Homo sapiens: one gene and its partner. Changing the gene in region 1 together with any one later gene gives a genetic interaction. Each region holds a gene or a part of one and is shown on either strand. Other genes may lie near its edges.

Region 1 (3,819 bases):
CTAAGGTGAGCTGAGGTCCGTTTTATCTCCCTGCCCAATCTCATGAGTCACAAAGGGTACTGTATTTACAGTAAGAGAAACAACAGAACAGAAAGAGACCCTTTCATTGGGAAAGAATGCAATAGCAGCTACCATTGCAGGGTAGAGGCTATCTCACTGAATTCTCATAACAACCACAGGCAGCGCCACCGCACCCCCCCACACACACACCATCACACACACACACACACACACACACACACACACACACACACACACACACACACAAACACAGACATCATCAGGACACCAAACTGGCCTCACATTTTGGCGGAAAGTGTTATTTGAGTTGATGAAATGGAAAATGACGTTAACATAAAAATGGGACTTCTAGCAAATATTCTGGCAAAGTCTTCCGTAATATCTTTATAGACAAGAAGTTAACCCCTCAAACTGGCTATGAGCTCCATTAGTACACTAGAAGCACAATGGCAGGATGTGGTTTCCCAGCAGTTCACATGGCAATGCTCCAGAGTTTAGGTTTGTTAGAATCTTGAAACTTGAGAAGGTCACAATTGGTGGGGGGAAAAAGGCTAATAAAGTTTAGGTAACATTTTTTAAAGTGACATAAACAGGATCACTGTAAATAAAATTCCTTTGGGCTCTAATTTATTAATTCATTACATAAATATGGCCCCTATTATGTACTAGGCATCAGGTCTAGTACTGTGTACTATGTACCAGACAGGTATGGCCCCTACTACAGACCATGCCATGCTGCAATAAACAAGGCAGAGAGTCTCTACTGTCATGACACTTACCACTCTACCCTAGTGAGACCTAGTCTAGAAAACTCAGTTTAGTTCTAGGCACTGTATTCTAAGAGGCAGTCTGATCAAATAGAATGTGTCCAGATGAGGCCAGCAACCAAAACAGTGAAGTATCATAAAGGAAATGGTTTAAATAACTGCTCATGACTAAATTGAAGAGGAAACCAAGGGAAATGAGGAAGTTGTGATAACTGGACAAAGACAGATATCTGGAAGGGCATCATGGATTCACCCTGCCTGCTGAGGACAGGCAGTAATACCATAGGGCAGAACAGGACCAGACACCACAACTGGAGATCCAGATAAGTAAAGGCTCAGCGGAGGCGTCAGCTTGAGTCATAAGTCGGGGTAAATGGGCATGAAAGGTCTAAACCTGGGTATATGACCTTGGGCAAATCACTTCACTCCTTCTGAGTCTCAGGTTTCTTAGCTGTGAAAAAGGGAGTTGGATTAAATGAGCTCTAACTTGCCTTTCAGCTTTGATATCCTAGGATGCTATGATTCAATTTTATAAACGTGAAAAAGAGGAAAAACTTGGTATCATTTGAGAATAAATTGAAATTGACAAATATGCTTTCATTTTAACTAATGCAAATGACATGATAAAAAACAGCTTCACTTCTCCTAGAAATTCCTGAAAGCAATGCTAGTCATTTCTGACCTGCTATATGTTTACTTAACATGGTAAGAAAAATGAAACTTCTTACTGCTTAATTCACTTAGCAAATACCTTTTGAGGGTGTAGTGTAACGATTTGGCGTAGTGAGTATTTCTCTCTTATGCTGGTTCTTATTAACTGGAGTCTTTGGCTCAGGAAACATAAAGTACTCTTCATTCTTTACAGCAGACTTAGGAGTATATACATTTTCTTTGTTCTTTAATTTATTTGCAGGTGTTCTGCATAAGGCTGGAGTTAATGATTTAGATTCCACCCCATTTGATTCTGTCCAGTACTTGGTAAACTGGAAAAAAAAAGTTACTAGATAAAGCACACTGAAGAAGAAAAGTCAATTTCTTTACAACATTCCTTGATCATTTGCAAACTACCTTGTACTATTTTTATTAAAATGAATTATCAAAAGGATATTATTGACATTAGGAAATTTGAAAATATATAGTTTTCTTTAATACATGTAGATCACTTTAGTCTGTTCTATTGACAGTAATTTTCAACATGATACAGGCTGAGTGTATACACATACTCAGATCCTAGGCAATATTGTGAATGGCCACAAATCAATCACTAAGAAATGCTTTCCATACCTAGATAGTCACGGCTTGCCTCTGACATGTACCAAAAAAAAAGTTTAGTCAGCAATTAGGGCAGAAAAAACATGTTAAACTACTCTAACAGAAATATTGGATAAAAAATACTTTTTAATCCTTTTAAATTTATGGTTGAGCTTGCAAGAGAGTAAGTAAAATCCTGAGAGGCCAAACTAAAAACATGAGAATGAATCCAAAGGAGTAACCAAGGCTGAAACTCTCTGCTGCCCTAAGGGCAGCTATCTTCTGCCTCTGATAACCTATAGCATGTGTTTCTACAGCCACAGAAGCCTTGGGCCTCTGCAAGGTGGTGAGTTAGAACCAAAGCTCCCATGTAAAGCCAGGAAGGGCTATAGCTAAAATTAAAGGCTGAGTTAAATATAAATCTGCTCTTCAAAGGGAATAGGCAAGAAAAAGGGTGTCTTGGTCTTGGTTCTGAGGGAGGAGAAAAATGAAGTTTCTTTTAATAATTTGTAAGTAAACACAGGCCAGTCTTCAGATAAATAAAGGTCCAAATTAATACAACCTGCATGGTCCCAGAAACCTCAAGCCTAAATTTAACTTAAAGTAGTCCTATGCTAAGTTGTGCCCCAGGAACCTGGTAGAAGCACGCACAACTCCTACCTGAAAGAAAAGCTTCACTCCAACCCAACTCAAGCCCTTAACCCAAGCCTCAGATAATTCCCATAGAGTTCAAAGAAAAATAAACCTACATAAAAAATTCCAAAAGACACAAGCACTATGAGCATAAAGATTTCAGATATTAAAATTATCAAATACAGAACATAAATAAGTATGTTTGCATGTTTAAAATAGTGAAACAAAAACATGAGTAAAGAACAAAAGACTACCAAAACTGTTCAAATAGATTTGAAAAAGAATAAAAACTTCTAGAAATAAAAACATGATAAAAATGAAAAGTGCAATGCACATGTCAAATAACAGAATAAAAGAAATAGAGATATTTTAATAGAAATATAAATCCGAAATAACTCTGAATGTAGCCAAGACAGAAAAAGACATACGATACGTGAAAGATGGTTGAAGGAAACAGAAAATGAAATAAAATGTCTAACATAAGGCTATTCTAAGTTCCAGATATACATAGTATGGACAATGCAAAAGCAGCAATTCCCTCTACTTCTTTTCCCAAAGGAAAAGAAATCAATACATCAAAAACATACCTGCACTTGTATATTTATCTCAGTACTTATTCACAATAGCAAAGATACAAAATCAACCCAAGTGTCCATCAACAGATGACTGCATAAAGGAAATGTGAGATAGATAGACAGACAGACACACAGATAGAATACTATTCAACCATAAAAAAGAATGAAATCCTATCTTTTGCAACAAGGTGGATGGAAGTGGAGGTTACCTTAAGTGAAACAAGCCAGACACAGAATGACAAATATTGCATGTTCTCACTCATAAGTGGGTGCTAAAAAAGGGTGTACACGTGGATGTAGAGAGTGGAATGATAGAAAATGTAGACTTGGAAGGGTGAGGAGATGGAAGGGGGTTGGTGATGAGAAATTACTTAAGGGGTGCGATGTACATTATTCAGCTGACACCTTAAAACCTCTCACTTGACCACTATGCATCTAAGAAAATTGTACTTGTACTCTATAAATTTATATAAATATTGTTTTAAAGAAAAGCAGGCTGGGTGCGCTGGCTCACACCTGTAATCCCAGCACTTTGGGAGGCCAAGTCATGTGATCACCTGAGGTCAGGAGTA
Region 2 (3,819 bases), on another chromosome or scaffold:
TCATGGGCATCAGGCCATCTCCTTATTTCTTAACGTTACATCCCAAGAGTGGAGCTCCAGCATCAAAGGTTAGACAGATTTTGAAGGCCTTTGACATAGATTGCCAAATTGTCCTGCAGAAAGGGTGCCACTAACTGATTTGTGATTCACCCAACAGTGTTCGCCGTTCCTCTAGGCCAAGATGGTATTACCATGTTTCAAAAGTGTTTGCCAATTTGTTGGGTTTCAGAATACCTTTTTTGATGACCATGATGTGTTTTCCTGAGCGCCTTCCCCTTCCTGAGCTCTGCCGTCACTGGTCCTCACCGCGTGCTTTTCTCACTGTTAGTTGTTTGATTTGCAAGCTCTCTGTGCTGACCCTCGTCTGCCTCATACATGGCCAGTATTGTCATCATTGCCCACCTTTCGTAGAGGCAGTTGTTTTATGATTTTCTCTTTATTTTTAATTTTTGTGGGTACATAATGTATATATTTGTGGGGTACATGAGATGTTTTGATACAGGCATGCAATTTGTAATAATCACGTCATGCGAAGTGTGGGATGTCCATCCTCTCCGGTGCTTATCCTTTGTGTAACAAACAATCCAATCATACCCTTATAGTTATTTTTAAATGTACAGTTAAATGTTATTTCCTTTTTGTTTTCTGCCTTTGATGTTATGTCTGGAAAGACATTGCCAACTACAAAAAAGCATTGTAAACTATATTATCCTAGAAACTGCAAAACGGCATTGTAAACTATATTAGCCTAGATTTCCTTCTAACTGTTCTGTGGTAAATAATCAAACTGAATAGAAATCAACGAGATGATGCTGGACAAGGTGACAGAAGAAGAACTCGTATCGGGAGGAGGAAACTGGAGTGGTGAATTGTGCTTTCATGTTGTGGCACGTGTTGAAATCTCATGCTCTCATTGCTGTCTCATTTGTTACATGTACGTTTACGCTCATATATCAGAATTCAGTGCAGGTGTTTTCATCGTTGTTTTTCTTGGTGTATATTGCTGATGTTTGGCCGTGACAGACTGTGATGGTCATCGTGTGTTCTGTCCCCAGACGAGTTTGGCGCACAGACTTGTGGCACGAGAAGGCTCGGCCGCTCCACTTCCCCTCTACACATCGCCATCCTTGCCCAACATCACGCTGGGCCTGCCTGCCACCGGCCCCTCTGCGGTAAGTCAGCCCCCGTGGGTCCGTGTGGTGTGGGGTGGTGGTGATGGGTCCTTCCACCCGAGCATCCTGGCTGTGCTTTCCAGGGCACGGCGGGCCAGCAGGACGCCGAGAGACTCACCCTTCCCGCCCTCCAGCAGAGGCTCTCCCTTTTCCCCGGCACCCACCTCACTCCCTACCTGAGCACCTCGCCCTTGGAGCGGGACGGAGGGGCAGCGCACAGCCCTCTTCTGCAGCACATGGTCTTACTGGAGCAGCCGCCGGCACAAGCACCCCTCGTCACAGGTGAGCACAAATGGGCCTGGGTGCAGCCAGGCTCTGAGGCTGCCCACGCTCTGGATGGTGCCCCGCCTTCGCCTGCCTTTGGAGGAGACAGGAATGCACGCCTGTCCCACCCCCACAGTTCCCAAACACACATCCCCATCACGTGATGTAGCCACCGTGACTGCAGTGAAAATCCATGCCTCACTCCCAGAGTCAGGTAGATGGAGTGGAAACAGAAGTCACTTCCCCTTTCTCACCTTTTGGGAGAGGCCACCGGCTCTTGCGATTTGGGTTTCTGTCTGGACCAAGCTGAGCCAGCGCTGGAAGCCCAGAACCGACTCTTGTGGTCAGTTTGTGTTAGCGAACTTTTACAAATGTGCACTGTCTGGGGGAGTGGTTACATTTAGAAAAATACAATTTAGAGGAAAATGGGAACGTCCTTATGAAATTACATAGCAACAGCAATGTGAAAGTGTCACTTCAGAAATGAGGGCACACCGGCCGGACACGGTGACTGACACCTGTAATCCCAGCAGTTTGGGAGGCCGAGGCAGGCGGATCACGTGAGGTCAGGAGTTCAAGACCAGCCTGACTAACATGGTGAAACCCCGTCTCTACTAAAAATACAAAAATTAGCTGGGCGTGGTGGCGCACACCTGTAATCCCAGCTACTTGGGAGGCTGAGGCAGGAGAATTGCTTGAAATTGGAAGGCAGAGGTTATAGTGACCCGAGATGGTGGCACTGCACTCCAGCCTGGGCAACAGAGCGAGACTCCGTCTCAAAAATAAATAAATGAGGGAGCAGCTACCTACCCCCTTGCCGTGCGGGTCATCGTTGTACATCTTCATAGCTTTGTGTTTGGCTTCCTGGAAACCTGTTGTTGCCAATTGAAAGCTGAAATACCCTCAGAGCTGCACCTGTGAAACTCTGGCAGTGAACTTGGTGAAAACTCAGGGGCTTGGCGTGTTGTAGGAGGCTGCGCTGCAGGATGCGTGGGGCTAGGGGCTGGCTTGGGTGGGCTTGGGCCTCTGGCTTGACTAGTCTGGTGGATTTTGGTGTTTTCTTGTTTTGTGCTGCCCATGTGTCTCTGTTTAGACAGAGAGGATTCCTTCTTATTCCTTCTTTGCCCAGAAGCCAAATGGCGCAATCTTTGTTTTGTGCCTGAGCCCCTTTCTGTTTGTTTCTCCAGAAGCTTGAATTCGTGTCCCTGCCTGTCCAGAGCAGAGGAGCCCGTGGTGTAACGAGGGAGGGGGCAGCCCTCACAGTGCCTCTCTGAGCTGCGGCCACAGTGGCAGGCACGCGGATCTCTCTGGAGGAATGTATCTGAGGTTGCGTCTGAGTCTCTTGGATGCTCTAGATCAGCTGGCACGAGTGTGGGTAGTGAAGGACACCTGAGTTTCTCGCCTGTCTTTAAAAACGTAAAATGTGCCTGATCTTCAGGATTCCTGGGATTCACTTCGTCAGAGATGTTTGTCACTTATCTTCTTTCCTTCTCTAAATCAGTTTATTCTGCACGATTAAATAGCATGCGTAATCTTGTGTATCAGGTTTTTGGAAAACAGCCTTTTTGATAGAACCTGGATATCGAGTGTGCATGGGTCTCACCTCTCTGAGAAACGCACTGAACTCGGCGTTGCTTCTTCCCTGTGTGCGCTCATCCCTCTTTTCCTCCCAGGTGCAGCTTGCTCGTTGGCATGGGGACCTGCCCACCGTGCCCTGCCCAGGCTCTGTGCCACCAGGGGGCCCATGCATGGTTGCCCAGCTTGCTCTGGCCTTGCTTTACGCCTGTGCCCAGCAAGCCCCTCCAGTCCTATGCCGCCACCTCCAAAACCCTGCAAGCCCCTTCTCTCCTGCACAGCCTCCCCAGGTTGCCAGCAGCTCATCCTGCAAACCCCCTGGCAGGGAGCCTCGGAGCCAGTGTCACGTGTGCAGCGTAGTGCAGCCACACAGCCGCCTCTGTCCCAGCTTTCTCCTGCTCCATGACCCTGGGAAGCCGCTTATGCTCTGTGTGCCTTGTTTTCCCATCTAGGAAGTGGGGATACTAAGCGGTCCGCCCCCGTGAGCCTGATGAGGGTTAAGTGGGCTGTGCACTCATGTGCCCCTGCAGGTGTTGGCATCATTGTTGTAGTCATTGCCTTGTTCTTAACCTGCCACCTCCCATGCTCTCTCACTCCCCCAGCCAGCCCCTGTCCGTCCTCAGTGTCTCAGGGGCCCTCCCCCAGCCCCGCCATGAGCAGGGCCCTCATTTGGAACCCGCTGGGATTGCCCCATCTTCTTGTGGGAAGAAGCCTCCTGTGCAGGTTCCTCCCCTCCGGTCTGTCCTCCTGTATCCACCGGACTCTCCTTGAAGGCCTGGAGGCCCCCACGCTGTCTAGAGCAGTACTG

The links.
Region 2: of MELK (region 1) and HDAC4, extra expression of one impairs growth in a mutant of the other (dosage growth defect), as found in Homo sapiens cells (one large-scale study listed by BioGRID).

What each region holds. Positions count from the first base shown.
Region 1 is NC_000009.12:36,663,302-36,667,120, reverse strand, and holds part of MELK (maternal embryonic leucine zipper kinase), read right to left. Parts: intron 1,772-3,819; coding exon 1,540-1,771; intron 1-1,539. UniProt on the Homo sapiens protein: Serine/threonine-protein kinase involved in various processes such as cell cycle regulation, self-renewal of stem cells, apoptosis and splicing regulation. Has a broad substrate specificity; phosphorylates BCL2L14, CDC25B, MAP3K5/ASK1 and ZNF622.
Region 2 is NC_000002.12:239,131,880-239,135,698, reverse strand, and holds part of HDAC4 (histone deacetylase 4), read left to right. Parts: intron 1-1,055; coding exon 1,056-1,172; intron 1,173-1,255; coding exon 1,256-1,454; intron 1,455-1,460; exon of another isoform or gene 1,461-3,819. UniProt on the Homo sapiens protein: Responsible for the deacetylation of lysine residues on the N-terminal part of the core histones (H2A, H2B, H3 and H4).